Linked DNA regions of Homo sapiens: regions 2 and 3 are each linked to region 1. The links come from fine-mapping of genetic effects on gene expression. A gene starts in region 1. Each other region holds a variant in brackets. All regions are shown on one strand. Distances are from middle to middle. Region 1 holds the start of TPP2 (tripeptidyl peptidase 2). Region 2 has its middle 8.1 kb from the start of METTL21C. Region 3 overlaps TPP2 (tripeptidyl peptidase 2).

Evidence for each region. PIP is the estimated chance that this variant, and not a neighbour inherited with it, causes the effect. A credible set is the group of variants that fine-mapping cannot tell apart.
Region 2: its variant is the best candidate, but not a certain one, in a credible set for the expression of TPP2 in skeletal muscle (FUSION, PIP 0.60).
Region 3: its variant is the best candidate, but not a certain one, in a credible set for the expression of TPP2 in monocytes (Quach 2016, PIP 0.75).

What each region holds. Positions count from the first base shown.
Region 1 is chr13:102,594,081-102,602,180 of GRCh38, forward strand. TPP2 (tripeptidyl peptidase 2) reads left to right here and starts at 2,906. Exons shown (of 30, transcript NM_001330588.2): 1 at 2,906-3,123. The coding sequence starts at 2,959. LOC107984588 (a long non-coding RNA gene) reads right to left here and starts at 2,862. Exons shown (of 2, transcript XR_001749984.3): 1 at 2,368-2,862; 2 at 1-321. RefSeq lists enhancers at 2,340-2,499, 2,550-2,609 and silencers at 2,680-2,969, 3,130-3,419.
Region 2 is chr13:102,699,125-102,707,224 of GRCh38, forward strand. It overlaps a transcript of METTL21C not described here. Among named protein-coding and RNA genes, the nearest start is that of METTL21C, 8.1 kb to the left of the region's middle. The variant C/T (reference allele first, on the strand shown) is at 3,686.
Region 3 is chr13:102,664,635-102,672,734 of GRCh38, forward strand. It overlaps TPP2 (tripeptidyl peptidase 2), which reads left to right. Exons shown (of 30, transcript NM_001330588.2): 27 at 161-291. Among named protein-coding and RNA genes, the nearest start is that of METTL21C, 26 kb to the right of the region's middle. The variant T/A (reference allele first, on the strand shown) is at 3,469.

The DNA.
Region 1 (8,100 bases):
TGGAAATAAAGTTTCCAGAAGAAATAGTGATATAAAATGTCTGCTTTTAAGTGTTCAGATATTTTATAAATAGTTGATGGTAGCTATCAGAGTTACACTCAACTGGGTATATTTACATGAGAAACGTGAAAGTTTCATTAAATAATGACGATATTTATACTATGCCAGAAATTACATCCTTTATAATTTTTAAAATTTATGATAGGCCGGGCGCAGTGATTCACGCTTGTAATGCCAGCACTTTGGGGGGCCGAGGCGGGTGGATCACCTGAGGTCGGGAGTTCGAGACCAGTCTGACATCAACATGGAGAAACCCCGTATCTATTTAAAAAAATACAAACATTAGCTGGGTGTGGTGGCACATGCCTGTAATCCCAGCTACTTGGGAGGCTGAGGCAGGAGAATCACTTGAACCCCGGGAGGTGGAGGTTGCAGTGAGCCGAGATCCCGCCATTGCACTCCAGCCTGGGCAAGAAGAGCAAAACTCCATCTCAAAAAAAAAAAAAAAAATTGTGACAAATTTAGACTTCATTTTACAGCTGTACAAAGGGATACATAACTTTTTTAAAAACATGTTTATGGGATATGTAAGCAAAAAAAGAAAAATCTGGCCGGGTGCAGTGGCTGATGCCTGTAATCTGAGCACCTTGGGAGGCCGAGGTGGGTGGATCCCCTAAGGTCAGGAGTTCAAGACCAGCCTGGCCAACATGGCGAAACCCCGTCTCTACTAAAAATACAAAAACTAGCCAGGTGTGGTGGCATGCACCTGTAATCCCAGCTACTCGGGAGGCTGAGGCAGGAGAACTGCTTGAACCCGGGAGGCGGAGGTTACAGTTACCCGAGATTGTGACATTGCACTCCAGCCTGGGCCACAGAGTGAGACTCTGTGTCAAAAAAGAAAAAGAAAAGGAAAGGAAAAGAAAAATCTAAAGAACATTGTTACGGCAGTCTAATAAAAAGTCTGCCACCTAGGTTTCATAATAAACTGTTCATTCCCCATTTATTCATTGGGTGATACTCTGGCAAAGTCATGCACATGGTGTGGTAGAACATACTGGGGAGAGATTGTGAGAAGACAAATCCCGTGTTTTCATCAACCTGTTTTGTAATCCATGACAGTCAGTTAACTTTGTTTCTTCATCTATAAAATGAAGTGATTGGACTATGGTTCACTTGAAACTGGGAGCCATTCTGTTCTATCACTATAAGCTCTATACTGAATGTCTTCTGCGAGTTTGTTATTCTGTTTTCGTCTGTGTTAATTTGAAATTCTTTTCTAGAGGTAATGTAAACAGTTGGGAATAAGAAGAAAAACATTCAACTTTTCTTTTTCCTCTGCACTAAAGAGAACATGCTTGTGTAAGACTTATGGACTGAATAAATGATCAAGGAATCAGCTGAAACCATTGCACAGCCATAAGAATAATTTTTGAGACTTAATGGAGGATCTCTGAAATTCTGTGGGTTGGAAACCGCATGCATAAGGCTTTCCTTTATACCAGGTATTCTTAACTTGGTGTCCATAGACAGAATCCAAGGGGTTCAAAAACTTCCGTAGAAAAAAGATACAAACCTCTTAATTTTTTTCACATCAAGTATGAATGTAGGCAAAAACCAGGGTAGTTATGCTGTTATGTCACCAATAAAAATCAGTTCATCGTAGTGCAGTTTTCACCGCTATCTCCAAATAATTATATTCTTCACTATTTTGAAGTTATGGTAGTTTATTAGCCTTGGCCCTAGCTCCTGTTATTTAATGCAAAAGAAGTACACCTGTAACTATACACACACACGTAAAGCTCCTGCTATATAACAAAATTGCCTTTAGTATTTTTGATAACTGCATTTAAACATAATTTATTTCCTGGGTAATCCTATCTATTTCATTGTATGCATTTTAAAACACTGCTTGAGAAATAGGCCTCACCAGATTGCCAAAGGGGTCTTCGGCACAATAAAAGGCTAAGATTACCCTGGCATGAGCATAGACATAAAGATCATTAGAGGACCACTATGCAGCTTGCAGCAACTGACGGCAGGCACTGTGAATCTGGAAAACTGAAAATTATGGCTCTATAATTGAGTGGACAGCCGTAAGGAGCAATCAGAAACTTCAGTGTAAGAGGAAAAAAAAAGATGTTTTTCAGAAATCCCGGAAGCTAAGGATCAGCAGAGGATAGGAGGGGCCCATTTCAGTCTCGTGCTTTGTTACTGGCTACAAAGGCGACGGAATGACCAACAACCCACTTCCTGTTGACTGAAACTATTGCCTGTCTCCACCCTATTGCTCCCCCTCACCACCTCACCCCCATCAAAGGGGCATAACAACACAGGGGAACCCAAAGTCTACACCCCTTAACCTACGACCTTCCAAAATCATGTCCGGAGCTTTCGCCGACACCGCAGACTCCTTAGCGGCTAAGCGTGAGTGCGCCGGCTCCCTTGCCTCGGGTCAGCAGCACCCCGGGGCTGGGGCTCCTGCAGCAGCCGCACCAAAAAGTTTCATCCACAACCTTAAGTTTGGAAACTATCGTTTGCCAAGCGAAGGGTTCCCATTATTCCTGGCTGGCGGTCCATCTCCTTGCCCGTCTCTCGGGGAGTGATTCGGTCCGGGACACCAGGACTCTGCTTGGAGGCCTGCTGTTGCCTAAAAACCCCAAGCGCGGGCCTCTTCAAGGCCCCAGGTTCGAGATCCGAACCCTCCAGTAATGTCCTCAGACTCCTCCCCCTTCACTGCAGCCCGGGCAATACTCGGGCCTAGCTCCTGAGAGCGGCGCCGTTGGCTTACGTAGCAGCACGTGATTGGCCACCGCTCCCTGGCAGGCCGGGATTGGTGGAAGACGGGCCGACCCCGCCCCTCGCCCCCGCCTCCGGCCCGAGGCCGCACGGGTGTCCTCGCGCTGCTAGTCCGCGCGCAGCCTGGCAGTTTGCCGCTTCCTCGTCCTCCATCCTGCGTCCATGGCCACCGCTGCGACTGAGGAGCCCTTCCCTTTTCACGGTCTCCTGCCGAAGAAGGAGACCGGAGCCGCCTCCTTCCTCTGCCGCTACCCGGAGTATGATGGGCGGGGGGTGCTCATCGCAGTCCTGGACACGGGGGTCGACCCGGGGGCTCCGGGCATGCAGGTGAGGCGGCCCCCGAGGGCCCGGGCGCGGGGGCGCGGGCGGCCGGGGACGCGGGTGGGGACACAGTCTCGGAGCCCGGCAGGCCAAAGCCCCGCTCTGCGGCCGAGTCCGGGCCGGGGTGGGCAGCACCGGGGTGGGCAGAGGTCAGAGCCAGGCGCGGGAGGGACGGGCGCCCGCCAAGGGGACTCAACGGCGCACAGTGCCAGGGTCGCTGGGCGGGCGAGGGCCCGGACCCCAGGTTGGGCCGTGGTCCCCCCAGCTCAACAAAAGCAGCGTGCCCGGCGCGGCTGCCTGGGGAAGCCTGGGTCCCCCTTTGGCCCCAGGGACTCCCCTTCCTTCTCGCTTCGGCGCTGCCAGGCCGGACCCCCCAGGCTCCTTCCCTCCACGCCGCCTTCCTCTGCCTACCCCTCGTGCCTCGGACACCGGTCCCAGCCTGACGTTTTTAAAGAGAATTTTACAGCTTTTATCATTGGGGTGGGGTGGAGACACCAGATAGGCAACTGACATGTGAGAACTTAATGTTTAGGGATCGGGAGATTTGGTTTGGGGAAGAATAGTTTGTCTTTAAGCACGAAAGCTGGGTTTCCAGAAGATAACCCAGTCCTCTTCCGGAATTGTTTCCTGTGGTAGTTTTGTGTATTCTATTTTTAAACGGTCTTCTGCAGCGTGTTTGCTTAGGGTCATTGAATCTTGTGGCTTAGTCTTCGTTTACATAAGGAGAATTCAGTTAGGTTTGGTTTTGGCGAGCTTCTCAGACCTTATGAAAATATGCGACTTTTTTTTTTTTAAACCTGAAAACATACGACGGTTTTTAAAAATTACTTAGTTTTTTGCCTTAGGCAACTTTAAAATCTGTAGATTCAAGGTATCATACCAGAAGGTAGTTTTTTTGAAAGTATGTTGTCTCTCGTTAAAAGCATTCTGTTTAAAGTCTTTAAAGTTTAACTTTTGTACTTTTAACCCTTTACTGAAATCCAGTAATAAAATTTCACCGTTATTCAAGATCCATCTCCCAGCATCCCTGACTAATCCTACTGTATGCTGATCTCTCGTTGATCAGCCCCTGGCTATCTTATCCTCCTTTCTACACTAAACACTCATCCTCCTCCCCACAATGTCCCTTCCCTTCTGGATCCTTTATCGTGCTTTCTGATTATTGAGGTAGCATTTTGGAAGTAACGAGGGGGAGTCTGGCCGAATCTGCTTAGAAACCCCTGGGAATCTTGATTCCTGGTGTGTGTTCTTCAGCACCACTCTGGAGTACAGCACATCTTTTGTGAATCAGAAGAGGATCAGGTACTGAATTCCCTCCCGGTAACTGGAGTTATATAGTTGTCGTTGTATTAATAACTTAAAGACTTAGAACAATGACAGCTATCAACTCATTTGGGGCTTTATTACAAAGTAATAATGCTTTTCATTCAGCTGTGGAGTGTGTTTACTTTTTATAGGATGAGTGGGAGGAAAACAGCTGGGATAAGTGGTTCACCGGTTCTTTTGTCAGGATAATAAGAGGGTCAGAAAAGTTTGGAGAAGTGCTGCTTGGTAGAATTTGTTGGTAGAATTTCCAGATCTGTTTCTCACATTATTCTGTTACTCTCTCTAAAGTAACAATAATTTTCACCCCACAGCCTTGTTGTGAAAATTGATTATAAGAGGACTGGCTAATTACATGTGACTTTTTTAAATGCTCAAGAAAAATATTAAACTATTTTGGCAATGATATTTATTCTTTTTTGTATATATAATTTCAACTTTTATTTTAGATTCAGAAGGTAGAAGTACAGGTTTGTTACATGGGGGTATTGCCTGATGTTAAGGTTTGGGGTGTGATTGATCCTGTCACCCAGGTAGTGAGCGTGGTACCCAGTAGGTAGTGTTTCAGTCTTATTTCCACCCCTTCCCTTTGGGATCCCCAGTATCTGTTGTTCCCGTCTTTGTGTCCATGTGTACTCAATATTTAGCTCCCACCATAAGTGAATAGAAGTTTATGCTGGATCTTTCATCACCAACTATTTGGAGGGTAAATATATGTTAGATATTTGCATGTAATAAATATTCAGATGATAAAATATTGAAATAAAATGAAAGCATAAGTCTTCTCTTTTAACAACCTTGACTCAGATATTGGCCTAAACATAGCCAGTTAAAAGAAATTGGGTACGGTGGCTTGCAAACGTGAGGATTTTTTTTTCCTGTACCTTTAACAGATTTATTTTGTAGATATATGTGTACATCATTAAGATTAGAGGATGGATAGAAAGAAAAAGGAAGGAAAGAATGAAATAGGAGGAAGATGAGGCTGAACTGGCAGTTTGGAAAGCCGGGTGGGGTCTGAATAAAGGACTAGAGGCACAAGTGAAAACGTGGAAGAACACAGTGGGTTGTCTCAGTCTTTGGTGACTTCCTTGGGCCCAATTCTTTTGTGACAGGTCTGTGGGCATGATCAAGTGGAGGATGGGTGGCATGAGAAGAGTAGTAGTTACGTAAGTGATTTCATATTTCCTCAGCAGATATTCAGGCACCTACCAGGTGCCTAAGTTTGTGTTAAATGATATAGTCTTGCAAACTGTCACTCTTGCAGAGATTGACAAGGATTATTGGGGGGATGGGGCAGGGATTGGGGCAGCATTGGCCAGTAAGAGCTGGACTGGTCAGGTTTCACAGACCAGATGGAACTTGGACTAGACCAGAATATATGTATGCAATAGCCAGGAGGTCTCCCTTCCACCAGTCTTGTTTCTCTTTGATCCATCCTTCACATTTCTAGAGTTAGATTCCTTAAAAAAAAAAAAAAACCTTGTATTATACCCTCATTTAAAACAAAGCCATTTTGGAATCTCAACTGCTTTTGTGTAAAAATTAAAAAAAAAAATTGAATGGTATATATGAGGCCATTTGCCATCCAACTCTGGCCTCCTTATGTAGCCTCAGTTCTCATCATTTCTTATGTCCATAGCCCCTTCATCCCCACCTTTCATCCTTTGCCTCCCCTTGAACATTTCATTCTTACACTCACCTAGATGTTTCAGGTCTTTTTGCCAATACATGCCTTTACATGTGGCGTTTCATCTTCCGTCAGGCTTCTACCATCCGTCATCTGTAAACTCCTGCTTCATCCTTTAAGATCCAGTCGGGTCTTGACACCATTATGTTTTGGAAAATCAACTGATTTAATTCTGCGCGCCCCCTCCCCCCACCACCTCGTATTTATGTGTGTTTGCCATTGTGTTAGGGCCTGCAGCTTCAGAGGTGAGTAAGGCCCAATCCCTCCTAAGAGTTATTTAGGCTTTTTGTCTCTTTGCTGTTATAGCAATTTGCTTAGATCCCCTTAATAGCACCTGAAATATGTATTTTAGTGTTTCTGTTTAGATAACTTTTTCCTGGTTAACTTAAAAATCTTTGAAAGCATGTATCAAAATTGTATGACATGTGCTTGTAATGTTAAATGTTTTTGTTGAATGGAAAAAATATATATGGGCATAATGAAGGAATATAATTTCCTCATAGAGGGAAAAAAAAGGTTTGAGGAGGTTACGAGTAGTTTCATAAAACTCTATTTTTACATTCACTAAAATTTTATTACCTCTCTTTCAGTTAGCTTTCCCTCATTCCCCCCAAGTTGGGTTTTGTGTTTTTACATGTTTTTGTATGCTTTCATAGATAGTGTCCTAACCTCTTTTTTTTTTTTCCCTCAAAGACAGGGTCTCACTCTGTCACCCAGGCTGGAGTACAGTGGCACAGTGGCAGGATCACCACTCATTTCAGCCTCAAACTCCTGGGTTTAAGCAAGCCTCCTGCCTCAGCCACTGCAGTAGCTGGGACCATAAGCATGTGCCACCATACCCAGCTAATTTTTTAATTTTTTTGTAGAGACAGGGTCTCACTGTGTTACCCAGACTGGCCTGACCTCTATTATTTGTTGTCCTGTTTTGTCATCATCTCTCTACTTACTTTTTCTTTCCAACCAATAGTAACCTTTACAAAAGCAAAGATTGTCTTATTTATATTAATCATTATATTCTTAGAATAAAAGTCACTGGTTAATATTTATTAAATCTTTATTTGCTTAAAAGAATATTTTCAGTACCTTTCCTGAAATTTTAAGTCAACTCATTAACTTTGTGTTGTTTATGATAGATTGCAAACTTCCCGCCATTTGTTCTGGTCCTCTCTGCAAATGTCCTACCTTTTGTTCTGGTCCTCTCTGCAAATGTTTGGCAAATCTTCCAACCTTCACTAACTCCTCTACCTTACTGGTTACATTGAAGACATACACTAACTTAGATTCTTGACATTTTGGGAAAAGCTTTGGGCAATTTCTGTTTCATCCAGCCAACATAGCCCAGTAAGCATTTCCCAGTCTCCCACCCCAGGACCCAGGATTTAATACCGAAGCTCTTACCGATACTAACTGCCCATGCTTTCAGTCCCTCTTTCCCATGTGAAGCCTCCCCCTTCTCAGAGATGAGTGATATAGTTCCATTGTTAGCAGTTCAGCTTCCTCCTTTCCTTTACTTCTCCCAAAACACCATGGCAAATCCTCAGGGGGTTTGCCTTTTTAAAACCCTCCTCTGACCCTACATTTCTGTTTTTGTCTTTTTATGTCTAGTGAAGTGGTTTTCTTTATCTAATATTAAAGTAAGAAATTCATGGATAGGATAATTGCATGTATAATAATTTGTAATGAAAATTTGTGTGTGTAGGAGAGAGATCCTTGTAAGTAAAGCATGTGGAAATAGGTGACAAATAAGCCATTAAATCCCATTAGGCTTTTTTCCTTTGCTAATATATTGATAATGAGGTTTCTAATGAGAGATCTATCTGACTTGTTAGTGCTCTCTTGTTATTCTTGATCTCAAGTCACTCAGGTTTGCTTATTGAGGTGAAGATAGGTGATTTGGGTTCTTAGTGCTACTGTATATCTTTCAAATTTCATATTGGAATACATTTTAAAATAGGTGATTTTCTTATATG
Region 2 (8,100 bases), 110 kb after region 1:
CATAACCCATAAAAAGCAAGGGTTATAATAGCCCTCCTACCCTTCTTCTCACCCAGTGCATACATACTTCCTTATTTGCATAAATACAACTTCACAGTGGAGACCCACCCTTTCTACAGTGGAAAATAACCTGAAGTCTCCTCCAGCTATTGCAACTAAAGGCAATGGAGTTGCACTTCCCAAGTCCAAACCTCTAGATGATGTCCATTTCTTCCCTGGCTCCGTTGCTTCTTCCATAACAGGCACATGATCCCAGGGGACCACTGACAATAACTTGATTGGCTGTTTCACCACAGCTCGCCCTGGGCTGCTATTCCTGTTCCCATCCCAGAATATGAATAGGAGACTCATTGATTTCCACATTGATCTTTCCTAAAAGGTCCACAAAGGATGAGATACTGATCAGGCAAATGCAAGACATACCCACCATGCCTACTTATAAGGGAGACTCAGTGGGAATTCCCTCCCAGAGAAGTGAGGGTTTCATTGGAGACACAGACCTTCTTCAAGAACCCTGGAACCACCGACATTCAATGTGTGTGATTTCCAGTGAGTAATGGAGAAAAGGTCAAAGTGAAATCATGCAATTTCATAACTTCTGGTCCCTCAATTAGCTGGTAACACAGTGGCCCAAATGTCAGAATCCTGTCTGTCAAATGGTCCAGGGCTGCTGCAATACCCCCCCGACCCAGCCCTGCACTGGCCAGACTTCTGGGGGAGTCCCCTGAGAGCAGCCGCTGTGACTGCCAGCTGCTTCTATATGGGATGCAAAGACTGAGGCCACTTAGAACACCTGTGCTTCAGGATTTTAAGACAGGATTCTTCCTGCTTTGGATTTGGCTCTGGTAACAATTAAATCCTATACCCACTCAGGTACAGTGTCAAATCTCCACCTGCAGAGAAAGGAATTTTGTAAACTAAAATTTGTCAGACTTGCGAACATGGAAAATATTACTTCTGTTTCATCTTAGATGACCAACATTACCAGTGAAGAAGGAAATAAAGCATAGCAGTAAAATAATCCAATAGGTTTGGAAACAGCAGTGAAGTTATAGTCTTTTTATTTTAAAAATAGCACATGCCTGTCCCTAAGCATTCGAGCCCCAGGCTTCACTGCAGGGGATGGCCTGGCTGTCCATAAATCACCTGCCTTGTAAAGTGGCTCTGATCAAAGGCCAGTGTGTTGCCTTGATAGACTTATATGCACTTTGGAGAATAGACATACTTAGTTGTTCGCTTCTATTTTTTATTTTCTTTCCCCAATCCAGTCCTTAAAACAGATTTCCCCTCAAAGAAATTTTATTGTAATTTTAGAAAAATCTCCAACTGCAACTATGTGTAAATCACAACGGGTAACTGCCAGGTTTCATGTTATCAAAATAGCCAAGAATGCTTTGCAGCTGAGCTATAAGCATGTGATATTAATTACACGGAGGAACGCTGTGCTTGGGAAACAAGTTTGGATGAGAAAGTCTGACACTGAAAATGTGCTTGAAATAAGGGATACTCTGGCAACGACATTTATTCTATTTTCCACTTTAATAAATGATACCTTTCTGCAGCTCACTTTAATCCTCAGATAAATGAAGTGAAATAAATGTATCAGTGTGGAAACACCATATCTTCACAGTGATTCAGCTTTGAAGCTGAGGAGGGGCAAGGATGCCTCGGTTCCTGTTTTACTGTGAGGCCTGGGAAGCAGCAGGAGAGGCTGCCCCATGACTCTGACACCCTACGACTCCCAGCCAGGAGCAGATGCCTCCAACGCTGTCCGTTCTTTCCATAGCGCCGTCCGCTGCTTGGACATGACACTTTTGAGAGGGGACTTAGTTGTCACTAATCATGCTCCGATTTTAGCAACAGCAGTTGACCACTGTTCAGAAAGATCATTTTTTCCCAACAGATTTCTATTAGGAAAGAATGTGTTTACCTGATGGAACTATTCTGGGATGTGCCACAACGCGGAATTCCTTTCATTCCTTCCCCTGTTCTAGGGGAAGGAATGGACTCCATTGGAGAGACGTTCTCCCATGAGGCCATGCTGTCAAGGTTTGGGGGGAAATACTCTGAATTATTTAAATATCTATCCAGGTGAAAAGCAACAGAGAGCCTGTTCCTTGGAAGCTGAGCCCTCCCCCTTTCCAAATAAGTGGCCTAGATGCGCCTCTTCAGCTCTGGGGTTCTGTTTCCTTCGTCTCTGAGAGACATAGCACCTTTCACATACCAACTCCACCAGGTTCTGGAAGGAAATGCCTCTGGGAACTTCTCCAATCTGCTTCTACCCCATTCTCTAGTAAAAAGCAAAGTATTTGGGTGGAGAAATAATGAAGCCATTCAAGGAAGCTGCCTCCATAGCTGCACCTTCTCACGGACAACCACTGCCCCTTGCGTGCAAATCTTATATGACCAAGACAAACGTTTAGGGGACAAACCACTGAGATGCTGGAGGTTTGTTATCACACATACTTCTAGTCTAGCCTGATTGTGTGTGTGTGTGTGTATGTGCGTGTGTGTGCATGCATGTGTGGCTGTGTGCATACTCTTGTCAAATGATTATTCTACGAGCATGAAGAAAAGTACAAGGCACATGCTGCAATATTAGTGGGAGCTGATAAAAGGGGAATTTGTGTGTAATTCCTCCCTTTAACAGACTAAAGAAGAAAAACTATATGATCATCTTGAAAGATATATAAAAAAGTTTGGTACAAGTCAACATCATTCATGGTCTTTTAAAACCAACATAAATATTAGGGGACTTCGGCAGGGCCCAGTGGCTCATGCTATGATTCCAGCACTTTGGGAGGCTGAGGCGGGCAAATCACTTGAGATCAGGAGTTTGAGACCAGCCTAAACAACATGGTGAAACTCGTCTCTACTAACAATACAAAAATTAGTCTGGTGTGGTGGCGGGTGCCTGTAGTCCCAGCTCCTCTGGAGGCTGAGGCTGGAGAATCACTTGAACCTGGGAAGTGGAGGTTGTAGTGAGCTGAGATCGTGCCCTTGCATTCCAGTCTAGGTGACAGAGCAAGACTCTGCCTCAAAAAAAAAAAGTGTGTGTGTATATATATACATATATATATATGTAGAGAGAGAGAGAGAGAGACAGAAAGAGAGAGAGAGACTTCATAAACCTGACAACATGTGTCCACTGAAAGCCCACATTAAATATATTCATTATTTATACATAATACACACATTAAATGGAGGAAAATTACAAAGACAGGAAAAAGACAACAATATCCACTGTCACTGTTCCTATTTAGCATTGTGTAGAAGTCTGGACAGTATGATAAAAGCAAGGAAATGAAATAAGAGCTGTAACAATTGGAAAGGAATAAACGAAGTTTCATGTTTGTAGATGACATGATTTTCCATATAGAATATGCAATAAATTCTATAGACAAACTATTTGGAACTAATGAAGGAGTTTATCAACTGCGTGTAAGATCCTGTACAAAAACAGGATTTTTTTTTTTTTTTGAGACGGAGTCTCGCTCTTGTTGCCCAGGCTGGAGTGCAATGGCGCAATCTCCACTCACTGCAGCAACCTCCGCTTCCTGGGTTCAAGTGATTCTCCTGCCTCAGCCTCCCAAGTAGCTGGGATTACAGGCATGTGCCAACATGCCAGGCTAATTTTTGTATTTTTAGTAGAGACAGGGTTTCACCATGTTAGCCAGCCTGGCCT[C/T]GAACTCCTGACCTCAGGTGATCCACCCACCTCGGCCTCCCAAAGTGCTAGGATTACAGCCGTGAGCCACTGCAACCAACCCCAAAAACAGCATTCTTATATACGAACAACAAAAATTTAGAAAGGGTAATTTTTAAAATATGCCATTTGCTATATAACAATAATTCCAAAGTACCATGGAATAAAATATATTGAAAGATGTTACATGAAACTGTCTTTTTCTCAAGATCTTTCCCTGTAATTGATGGAGAGACAGCTTCAAATAAATACTCTCATTGCAGTGGGATAGAGGTAACATGAGCTATCATAAACCACCTGGTTATGACATTTACCAATGACACCTTTCTTTCTATAGCTGATGACTAGATCTTCAGCAAAATAAATCAGAAGCTTTTAGAGCTTCACGTGCTGCCCTTCTCCTTTCCCCTCCCTGCTCTCTTCTGCTCCTTCCTCTCCTTTCCTAGAGCTTAGTCAATGGGCAGCTGGAACTTCTAGCCCTGAGGGTTCTAGGTGCCCCGTAGCCAGGCCTGCAGGCCAGAAAACATCAAATCTCAAGGTGCTGCCACAGTTAATTCATTGGTGTTCTTTTTCTCTCTCTGTCTCCAGCTCTGTTTGCTTTTTGTTGTCTTTCATTACTCAGTTAAAGTTAACTGCCAGTTTCATTTAGTTTTGTCAAAATAAATGGAAAGAAAACCCTGAAGCAGGAGATGAATGTAAACTGGGAAAATCTTGCAAAATCGCAAAGATAGTTCTTGGCGCTTCTGTTAAAGGAAACATTATTCAGCGACGCTCGTTACAGCACAGTGAAGCAGATGTTATTCAGGATCATCAGGGTTGGTGGAGGAACCACGGCAGTGAGGTTTTGTGGTGGGGGAGATGGGGCTTGTGAAAATATATAATTCAAAATCTAAGCTGTTGGAACTTTAAATTATTTTGACCCTTAAAGGAATGTGATTATGGGGCCTGAGTCAGGCAAGCAGGCAGACATAACCCAGGCAACTGAAACCTGTGTTTCTCTGATTAGAGATTAAACTTCTTCCTTCCCTACATTGTTCTATTAAATGTAAATGACTTAAGGGCCTCAGGGAAGACCTCTTCCCTATTCACTGTGGATCTTCATTATAGATTAACTTTCTCCCTACCTTTCTCACACAAAGACTTTATGGCTATCACATTGTCTTAAGATGCAATACTAAATATACTGTTTTAAATTGGAAAGAAAATGAAAACAAGCAGCAAACAAACTGTCACCATTTAAATTGCCGTAACTCATAAACCAGCTTTGTATAGAAAATGTTACAATCCAACTAAACTTCTCTGTTTTCTGCCTATATAAGCAAAAGCTTAATTTTTAACGTCAGAGCGCTCACCTCATTTCTCTGGAGTCTGTGTTTCCCAGATGGATATTCTCAGCTTTTCAAAGCTTAAATAACTTCTTTCAAGCTAGGTTCTAATTCTTTCGATTATTTCAAGTTGACAGGGTCAAGTTCTACCACAGCAGGGGCAAGTAAGAACTTATAGTCAAGGAGCAGGGAGGGGGTCAGTGGATAGAAAATTACTATGAGGTAACATCTGGGTAAGGAGGATTCTGGCTAAACCGACCTAACAGGATTCTTGCTGAAGACAGGTCGGGGTATGAGACATCACCTAGGGGATGGTGGAGGATGAGGAATCTTACCCTGAAGATGAGGAAGATGGAAGATGATCAGATATCAAGGGTTCTGGCTAAACTGACTTAGCAAGCTTCTTGCTAAAACTAGATTTCACAAGGAAGTGCACAGCTAGATCAAGAAGTGGCATGAGGAACCTGGGTCATGCAAGAATTTTTGTCCCTTCCAGAGACAGAGGGCACTGAAATAGATACACTTCTCCCTGAGACAGAGAAAGGTAACCTTCTAAAAGCTCTGGAATGAAAGATGACATTTACAGCTTCTTATCTCTTAGATTTCAAATGCTATTGTCAACTGTAATACAAAAAAAAAAAAAAAAATGGTCTCTCTCTGTCTTCTCTCTTTTTAACAGGTTGGGATTTTGCTTGCGCTGTTGCCCAGCCTGGTTTGCAGTGGCGCAATCATGGCTCATTGCAGCCTTGATCTCCTGGGCTGAAATGATTCTTCCGCCTCAACCTCCCAAGTCTTTGGGATTATAGATGTGACTACTGCACCTGACTAAAAATTGGTCTCTTTATTACATTTTTCCTTTTTTTTTAAAAAAAAGAATGATGGTCTCTTTTTAATTGGTATAATGAATACAATCCACTGGCCAAAGAAGAAAGAAATAAAAGCATGTGGATATATATGTGCATGTGGTGTGTGTGTGTGTGTGTGTGTGTGTGTGTGTGTACTGTCAATAGACTAGTAATGTCACCTGATAGGTGTACTGCTGCTTTTCAGTTTAAAAACCCCATCTATAAACACCATCTCATTTGATGCCCATGGCAATTGTGTAGGATCCATAGAAATGGCATAATGAATACTGGGGCACAGAAAGTGGAGGAGAGGTCCCTATTAGTCATCAAGGGCAGTGAGAAGGAAAACAATGAGTCAAATAAAAACAAACCAGCCATGAAAGAAAACATTGATATCCTGGACTTCATTAAAGCTTAAACTTCTGCTCTGCAAAAGACACCACCAAGAGAATAAGACACATCACAGACTGGGAGAATATATTTGCAAAAGACATATCTGATAAAGGATTTTTATCCAAAATATGCAAAAAAAACCTCTTAAAACCCAACGATAAGCAAATGAATAACTCAATCAAAAATGGACAAAAGATCTGAACAGAAACCTCCCCAAACAAGATACACAGATGGCAAATAAGCAGATGAAAAGATGCTCAACATCATATGTCATCAGGAAAATGCAAATTAAAACAAGACACCACTATATACCTATTAGAATGGCCAAAAGCCAGAACACTGACAATACCAAATGCTGGTGAGGATACAAAGCAATAGGAAGTCTCTTTCATTGCTGGTGAGAATGCAAAAATGGTTATAGCAACTTTGGAAGACAGTTTGGCGATTTCTTCTTTTTTTTTTTTTTTGAGACAGAGTTTTGCTCTTGTTGCCCAGGCTGGAGTGCAATGGTGTGATCTCAACTCACTGCAACCTCCACCTCCCGGGTTCAAGCGATTCTCCTGTCTCAGCCTCCTGAGTAGCTGGGATTACAGGTGCCCACCACCACACCTGGCTAATTTTTGGTGTTTTTAGTAGAGACGGGGTTTCACCATGTTGGCCAGGATGGTCTCAATCTCCTGACCTTGTGATCCACCCTCCTCGGCCTCCCAAAGTGCTGGGATTACAGGCGAGAGCCACTGCGCCCGACCCAGCTCAGTGGTTTCTTACCAAACTAAATAAACGTACTCTTATTATACAATCCAGCAAACAAGGTTTTTGATACTTACCTAAATGAGCTGAAAACTTATGGAACCCTAAGTTTATGTCCACAAAAACCCTGCACATGGATATTTATAGTAACTTTATTTTAAAATTTTTTTTATTTTACTTTAAGTTCCAGGATACATGTGCAGAATGTGCATGTTTGTTACCTAGATATATATGTGCCATGGTGGTTTGCTGCACCCATCAACCAGTCATCTAGGTTTTAAACCCCACATGCATTAGGTATTTGTCCTGGTCTCCCTAGTCCCCCACCCCTGACAGGCCCTGGTGTGTATTGTTTGCCTCCCCGTGTCCATGTGTCCTCATTGTTCAGCTCCCACTTATGAGTGAGAACAGGCAGTGTTTGGTTTTCTGTTCCTGTGTTAGTTTGCTTAGAATGATGGTTTCCAGCTTCATCCATGTTCCCTGAAAAGAACATGATCTCATCTCATTCCTTTTATGGCTGCATAGTATTCTATGGTGTATACGTGCCACATTTTCTTTATCCAGTCTATCACTGATGGGCATTTGGGTTGGTTCCAAAGCAACTTTATTTGTAATTGCCAAAACTTCGAAGAAACCCTGATGTCTTTCAATAGGTGAATGGATAAGTAAACTGTAGAACATCCAGGCAATGGATTATTATTCAGCACTAAAAAGAAATGACCAAGCCATGGAGAGACATGGAGGAATCTTAAATACATATTACTAAGTGAAAAAAGCTAGTCTGGAAAGGCTGCATGCTGTATGATTCCAACTATATGGCACTCTGGGGAGTGCAAAACAATGGAGACAGTAAAAGGATCAGTGGTTTCCAGGAGGTGGGGTTGAGGGGGATGAATAGGTAGAGCCCAGAGGACTTTGAGGGTGGTGTAACTACTCCATATGAGAGGATAATGGTGAGTACATGTCATACATTTGTCTTAATGTGCATTAAGAGTGAACCCTAATGTAAACTATAGACTTTGGGTGATAAGTGTCCATGTAGGTTGATCAATTGTGACAAATGTACCGCTCTGGTGTGAGATAC
Region 3 (8,100 bases), 71 kb after region 1:
ATCACAGTAGGAGATAGCAGGGAGCCCCTGGGCTACAAGTCAATTACATAGTTTACTCACACTGCAGTTGTAGGTCTCATGGTTGAGACAGCAGAAGTGAAATTGCTTTCGTATACTGATTGATATACCTATTTTTTATTATTTCTTTTTTCCTCTCCAGGAACGAATGAAAAGACTTAATGAAATTGTTGATGCGGCAAATGCTGTTATTTCTCATATAGATCAAACAGCCCTAGCAGTTTATATTGCAATGAAGACTGATCCCAGGCCTGATGCAGCTACTATAAAAAAGTACCTAACCAGTAAATAATCTTTCTTGCATCTCATTTCCTAGTTAACTTGTTTAAAAAGTAGGGACTAATATTATAGAGGATATTGCTTTTCTGATGTTTGTTATATCCTTATAATGGGAATTATCACTATTTGGATACTCCCCTCCTTAGAAATTTTAAAATAATTTTGTCCAATCTTTTTAAGAGTAAGCCCAAGAAAAGTAGTTTGCCTTCTCTACTGTTAAGTGCTGTCAAGGTAGAGGGATTTGAATATCTGTGATCAAGCAGTCCAACCACTTGAGGGTTTATGTGAATTGGACCATATCAGGAAGACAAAAATTAACAATCTATAAAATAATTTTTAAAATGTTTATTGTCCAGTAACATGAAAAACCTAATATTTGGTTTGTAATAATTACATGACAAACCTAATACGTGGTTTGTAGTGAAATAAATGATAATAAAATTAGGTTAAAACTATCTGGCAACTTTTATGAAACTGGTTTTATAGTATTAGGGAGAATAGGAGGAGAGAATTTATAGTTTTGCCTTTATAAAACCTAATGCTGTGTGTAAATAGAGAAGCTTCCCTGGGTTTATGAGTGGTTGGTATGGTTCCTTCCATGCAAGTGTGATTTCCGTATGTTGGTGTAATTAATGGTCCAGTGACTCTGAACCAAGCTGCCATTTGGTCACTTTCACCCTTCCATGAACTCTTAAACCATCACCTCATGGTAGCTCTCCCAGTGTCAGTTACTTGTTTATCACTTTTGTTTATTTTTGACTTACAGGATCATTAACTAGGTAGAAATATCCTGATTCTTTTGTGGTTATTATAACTAATAAACCAAAACTATTCAGGCTACCTGAAAATACTAAATTTTCCTTAAAAATTTTCTCAGTTTCAGTCAGTATTTTTTTCTACATAAAATACTTGGATTCCAAACTGCTAGAATTCTTTCCATTATATCATTTATATTGATACTATAGGATCTTATGAATCTTACAAGCAATAATTTTCAAGTGGGATAGAATATATTTAAAATTGCTTCTTTGGCCACTATTATTACCTTTTCATATTTTTCAAAAGAATAGTCTCAAAACATTGCCATTTTGTTGTTGTTGTTAATAATAACAGAAAATACAGCCACCATTTATTAAGTGCCGATTATGTATAAGGGACTATTGAGGGCATTTTAAATACATTGTTTTATTTAAATTTAGTCTTCCAAACAACATGGAAGGCAGGGGCCTTTGTATCCCCCTTTTAAGGAAGAGAAAACTGAAGTTCAGAGAGTTTAGATGACTTGGCCCAGGTGCCACTGCTAGGAAGTTGGAAAGCACATAGTCAAATCAGGATCTGCCTCCACAGCCAATGCCCTTTCTTTTCTCTGTATATTCTTCTCCCTTCTTGAGAAGGTTAACATAACTCAGTATTATCTCACAGAAAAAGGAGCATCGTCTGCCTCCCACCCATCCTCATTGTGTTCCTTTCTGTCTCAGGGTGATCATTGTTAATCTTATTGCAAGAGGAGGCTGGCCTTGGTCACTTTAAAACTGTCTTCCACAGATCACCAGTGATAACCAGTTGCTAAAAAGAATGGCCCATTTTGAGTCTTCTTTGAGCTCTCTGCAGCCCCCGACATTAACTATCCCATATACTTTCTAGCTTTTGTTATTTTTTACATTTTGTGAAAATAATATGATTTTCTCAAACTCGGGTGTTACATGAAATAACACATATGGTTTTCTCAGTTTTACCATCCACAGAGGAAACTCAATCTCAGCTTACAGTGAGCCATAAACTAATACGATATTAGTTTTGTTTTCTTATTGGTCTTTATCACTGTTTTTAATCTCTTTTTTTTTTTTTTTTTTTTTTTTTAGTTTCTACTCTTTGGAGATTACTAGACATTGACTATCATGGCTATTGAAATAAGCTGGGATAAAACTAGAAAAGAAGCCATAAAACTTTGTAAAAACGCTAAGAGTGGAGCTGCTTTAAGTTTTTAGCGACACTGGGTCAACTTGTTTATCCTTGTAATTAAAGAATTTCTATTTCTCTCCAGGCCTTTGCTTTGGCCTGACTGAAATAGACTCTGACCAGGTTGTGTTTGGACAGAAGACAGTATTCAGAGTTGAAATATTATACAAGATGCTATCAGGAAATACTTAGCATTTCTTACAGATGTCATCTATGGGCAAGTAGCAGCCAACTTAAGCATTAATTTCTCATTTCCATGCAAAATTGCTTTCTCTTAAATCAGTAACATCAAAAATTGTAAAATGCCATTTTCTAATCTTAAAAAATATTAACTTTTAGTTAATATCATGTTTTAGTTAAATTTAAACTGCACTTATTTAGGCATTAAAATACTGATTCCAATTAAGTTGCTTCCTAAAATGTAGCTATTATCTTGATGGATACCTAACTAGATTTGATTTCAAGGTCCTTATTGAGCAAATACTTCATGTAAGGCATCACTGACAAGGACTTAAAACATGAGCAAGATAGTCTCTACTCTTATGAAACTTATCATCTAATATAGAAGATGAAATTGCCAGATAGGAAATTATTAAGAGATAATGAAATACAAGTATTTTTAAATAAATATTTCAAATTGTAAAAGCCTGTAGAAAGAAAAGCTGACTTTCACCTGAGTGGAAAAAGCCTCATGTACTATAAAGGTATTCAATCTCAGCCAGTCAGTACAAAACCTAAGGAGAGGAAAGGAATACTCCAGATATGTAGAATTTAGATTACGTGATAAGAGGATGCTAAAATAGAAAGGGATCTTACAGCTAATTTAACCCAGGTCTGACAAATGCAGATTACCTGTGTCACCCCCAGGTTGCCTTCTGATTTCTGCATCATTCCAGCCCTTCTCTGGGCAGCCAGGATCCATCAGGCAGCATTTGCCGAGTCTGCCCTGCAGACTCTGGCCGAGCGACGGATGAAAGGAGTGCTCAGACACAGGTATCCAGTGAAAGAGTGGGCTAGGGGACTGCCAGCACTAAGGGCCAAAGAGAGTTAGCAGTCCCCCTGAGCCAGCGACGCTCACATTTATTTAGTAGAGATTTAATGACAAAGGCTTGGAGCAAACACAATTTGTGGGTAATAAACATTGTCGACCCCCAAGTAGAGAGCAGTCCTGCACATGAATGATCAAAGGTTGGTTTTTGGAGACAGGAGTAG[T/A]CAAATTTGTCTAGCGCAAATGATCAAAGGTTGGTTTTTGGAGACAGGAGTAAACAAATTTATCTAGATAAGTTCCTTTACATTCCCTTGTTATCTGCCTTTTGCTCCCTGGCTCCAGATAAGAGAATTTGGCTGCCTTCAGCCAGATCCTCTTTCAAAGCTTTTGCAAAACCTCCCAGCCTTCCAAGAAGGTTTGCATCTTTCCCTCTAACTTTTACCTACCACTCTGACCAATTTCCTACATCTCCCCATTTTCTGTTTTTTTGCATCAGGTTTTGTTGATTGAAGAGTACAGATGTGTGCAGCAACTGGTTTGTCTGGCGTAGTGGTTACTGCTTGTATTCCAGCTTTGCATCCTAGAATTAGTAAATAACATAAGACAAAATGAGTATAATCAGTAACATTCTTTTCCAATCAAGGAGTGACATGTAGTGTTTCTTGGCACCTCAGTCCAATGTGTGCTGTTACTAAGGAACCCCACTGAGGGTATGTTACCCCCTTCCAGCCAAGCAGTTACTTTATTGGAGGCTGGGAAGGTGGTGTCTGCCCAGGTAACAGGGCAGAAGAAAGGCAAATCTAAATGATGATCCCAATAGCGTGTAGCAGGTATGGGTTGCAGGCAGAGTGAGAGAATAAGAAGGGTTAATACCCAAAAGAGTTGCAGTGTACAACGGAAAGCATAGCAAGGAACAAATTATCTGGAGTGAATGGTGTCTATGTCCAGAGCAGGATTCATTCAGCCTTCTGAGTTTTCTTCAACATCTCCCAGGTAATGTCTGGGGTTTGTGTCGTCTGAAGAAGCTGCATCATCCAGGGCTATGGGTCCCACAGGGTCATTTTCTTCATTTCTGGTACCGGGTTGGGTCCTAGCCACGCTATGGTATGGTTTGATGCCTCGTGCTGGAATCCAAAGAGGACCTGAGGGGGTGTGAACACAAGCATGTCTTCTTCCCAGTGTTAACAATTCAGTTGAACCGCACCATACATTACTGTTTATATCTTTCCATAAAACTGCAGGTTTATGTCTTGAGAGGTTTTAGCAAAATGCTCTTCTATAGCTGATTGAAATTTATCGTTTAGATTTTAAAAAGTAAGGGTAAATAAGGCTTCTGCCAGTAGTGTTGCAGGGTCCTTACTCATATTCACTTTTTTGTTGTTTTCTGAGCATATTTTTAAGGGTGGATTGGACACGTTCTACTGTGGCCTGTCCTTGGGGGTTGTGAGGGATGCCTGTGGATTGTTGGATGTTCCACATATGACAAAATTGCTGAAATTTTGAGCTGGCATAAGCTGGACCAATATCAGTTTTAATTTTTGTGGGCCGCTCCATAAATGCAAAAGTTAAAAGAAGATGTTTAATAACATATTGAGCAGACTTTCCAGGAAGAGCATGTATGCTAATTAGGTGAGAATTGGTATCAACGGATGCATGTACATATCCTAGTTTTCCAAATTTAGGGATGTGTGTAACATCTGTTTGCCATAACTGATTAGGTTCTAGTTCTCTAGGGTTAACACCTGTTGAAGGAGGGGACATGCGTGTGAGCTGGCAATTTGGGCATTGCAGGATAATTTGTTTAGTCTTTGGGTAAGTTGAAATCGTTTAGATAAATTTGTCCAATTTTGGTGGAAACATTGATGCGAATGGGTGGCTTGGTCAAGCAGTGATGTCATAACCTGCAGGTCTGCTTGATCATTGCCATAAGCTAGGGGGCCAGGCAGTGAGCTGTGGGCCCAAATGTATGTAATAAAAATAGGATGTGTACATTGATCCACCGATTGCTGAAATCAAAGAAAAACTGCACACAGGGTGGGCTTGAGAGTGGACTTAATAAGGGCTGTTTCAAGGTTCTGCAATAAATAAACAGAGTAAGCAGAGTCACTAACCATATTGATTGGCTGAGCAGGAAAGGTCTCTAGGGCCAGTATTAAGGCTCCAACCTCAGCTTTCTTGAGTGTTAGTAAATCCAGAACAAGTGAGGGAATTGTGCAGTCTCCACCAAATAACCACTTTTCCATTTTTACCAGAGCCGTCAATAAAAAGCATTAAAGAATTAGGTATTGTGGGTGGGGGGGTGTGGCGGTGAACCACTTTTGTAGGCATAACTACAGGAGTACTAGATAATAACTGAAGTAGTTTATTGGCAGGAAGGGCATGTTCTATATGGCCTTTGTAATCAGAGAGTGCTATTTGCAGGTCTAGAGATAAGGGCAAGACTGCTTTGAATTGCTTTTTACTTAAAGGACTTCCGATGACATCACGGTCATAACCTAGCAACTGATTGCATCATCTGCGGCCTAAATAGATGGTTTTACTAACTAGCTGGGTACAGGGAGATAGAGTTTTAGTTCTGGTATGTGAGCAAAAAACTCATTTTAGGAAGCATAGCCCTGGGGACATCTGTCCTATTAATCCTGTTGGGGAATGCTTAGTAGGAAAAACAAACAATTGAACTGAATATTGAATATCGTGGGTCTGTGCAATCCTGTTGCCTCTGAAAAATAGCATGCTCTATTTCCTCAATTTCCCTTTTTGCTGCAGGAGTTAAATACCTGGGAGAGTCTAGGGCTGTATTGCCCTTTAGGATAGAAACAGGTTTTGTAATGTATCAGTTATGCCCAAGGTGGGGTGAAGCCAGTTAATATCTCCTAGTAATTTCTGATAATCATTTAATGTGTGTAAGTTGCTAGTATTTAACTTTTTAAGGTCTTACTGACCGGTAAGTTAGAATGTATCCACGATATTTCTAAGGAGAAGACAATTGTACTTTTTCAGGTGCTATGATTAAACCTCTTAACTGTGTATTCTTTACGACAGAGGCATATAGACTTACAAGTCCTGGCTCCGTTGGAGCTGCTAGTAAAATATCATCCATAAAATGAATAATCTTGCAATTAGGAAAGTCTTTTCTAATGGGGAGCAAAGCCTGATTTACATGATACTGACACAGTATTCCTTGAGGAAGTACTTTCCAATGAAATTGGCGAGCTGGCCTTTATTGATAACTGGTATTTTAAACACAAATTTTTCTCTGTCCTGTTCTGCAAGGGGAATAGTATAAAAGCAGTCGTTTAAGTCAATAAGACTATAGGTCAAACTACAGGAATTGCCGCTGGGGAAGGGAGGCCCTGTTGTAGGGGCCTCATAGGTTGCAAATTAGCATTGATAGCCCGTAAGTCATGCAAAAGTCTCCATTTGCCAGACTTTTTGGGAATGAGGAAAATGGGCAAATTCCAAGGGCTGTTTGACAGTTGTATATGGCTGGCTTTTAATTGTTCCTCAGCTAATTCATGGGCTCTTTGTAATTTCTCTCCCTTTAAAGGTCACTGTTCTACCTAAATAAGATTTTGAGAGAGCCTCATCAGGGGTAGGGGAGAAACAACAGTGGCCATTATTAGAAAGAGATCTGCAGAGTGACCTCAACCCTCTTGTAAATGGGCTAGCGGCTCCGTTTTCTTTAATGCTTTTCCTTATCTCTTTATAAGCGTTAAAAGTAACGGGTTCATACACCTGATTGTGTTGTCAATTTTGCGTTACCAGGCAGGCCAAGAGCTCCCCTTCTAATGCCGCTTGCCTAAGACAGGGTCCCATAGCTGTAGCATATTCCTTGTCTTTTCTCCAATTTATTGGAGGACGGGGCTCAGGCAAAACCTCCGTTTCCTCTTTGTTATCTTTGCCCGGTAACAGCGGGGCTGAGGGAGAAGGGGGAGGAACCATGGGTTATGGGAAACAACAGTTTGCATTAGGTCCCTTAATTGAGCCTGCGAAACCGAGCCTCCACTAGCTTTAAGCAGCTGTTTCATTACTTTTATATACTGTTGCTGTTGAGCTGATAACTGTTGTCCCATGATGAAACCCTAGCCTGAACAATTCCCTCGAACTTGGAAATCCCAAGCGGGCACCAGTGACTTACTGACTGCGCAGTCTCTTCACCTTCATTTTCGAGGGTTCCATTGTGATCCATTGCAGCGTTCCTCTCATGGGGCACCACCTGCCAAGTCTGTCCCTCAGACTATGGCCGAGTGACAGATGAAAGGAAAGGAGTACTCAGACACAGGTATCCAGTGAAACAGCAGGCTAGGGACTGCCGGCACTAGGGGCCGAAGAGAGTTAGCAGTCCCCCTAAGCCAGTGATGCTCGCATTTATTTAGTACAGAATTAATGACAAAAGCTTGGAGCAAACACAATTTGTGGGTAACAAACATTGTCGACCCCCCAAGTAGAAAGCAGTCCTGCTTGTGAATGATCAGAGGTTGGGTTTTGGGGACAGGAGGAAACCAATTTATCTAGATAAGTTTCTTTACATTCCATTGTTATCTGCCGTTTGCTCTCAGGCTCCGGATAAGAGAATTTGACTGCCTTCAGCCAAATCCTCTTTCGAAGCTTTTGCAAAACCTCGCGGCCTTCCAAGAAGGTTTGCATCTTTCCCTCTAACTTTTACCCACCACCCTGACCAATCTACAAGTATCAGCCTGGGTGTGGAAACCTGCCTTGTCAACCCATTGCTGTTCCAAGCCCCTTTCTCCTTCACAAAATCAGGATAGTAGTTGTGCCCGACACCTTGGATTGTTGGAAGGCATAAGCAAAGGACTGCTGAGAAGACATTTAAGGATGGCACCTGGCATCTAAGA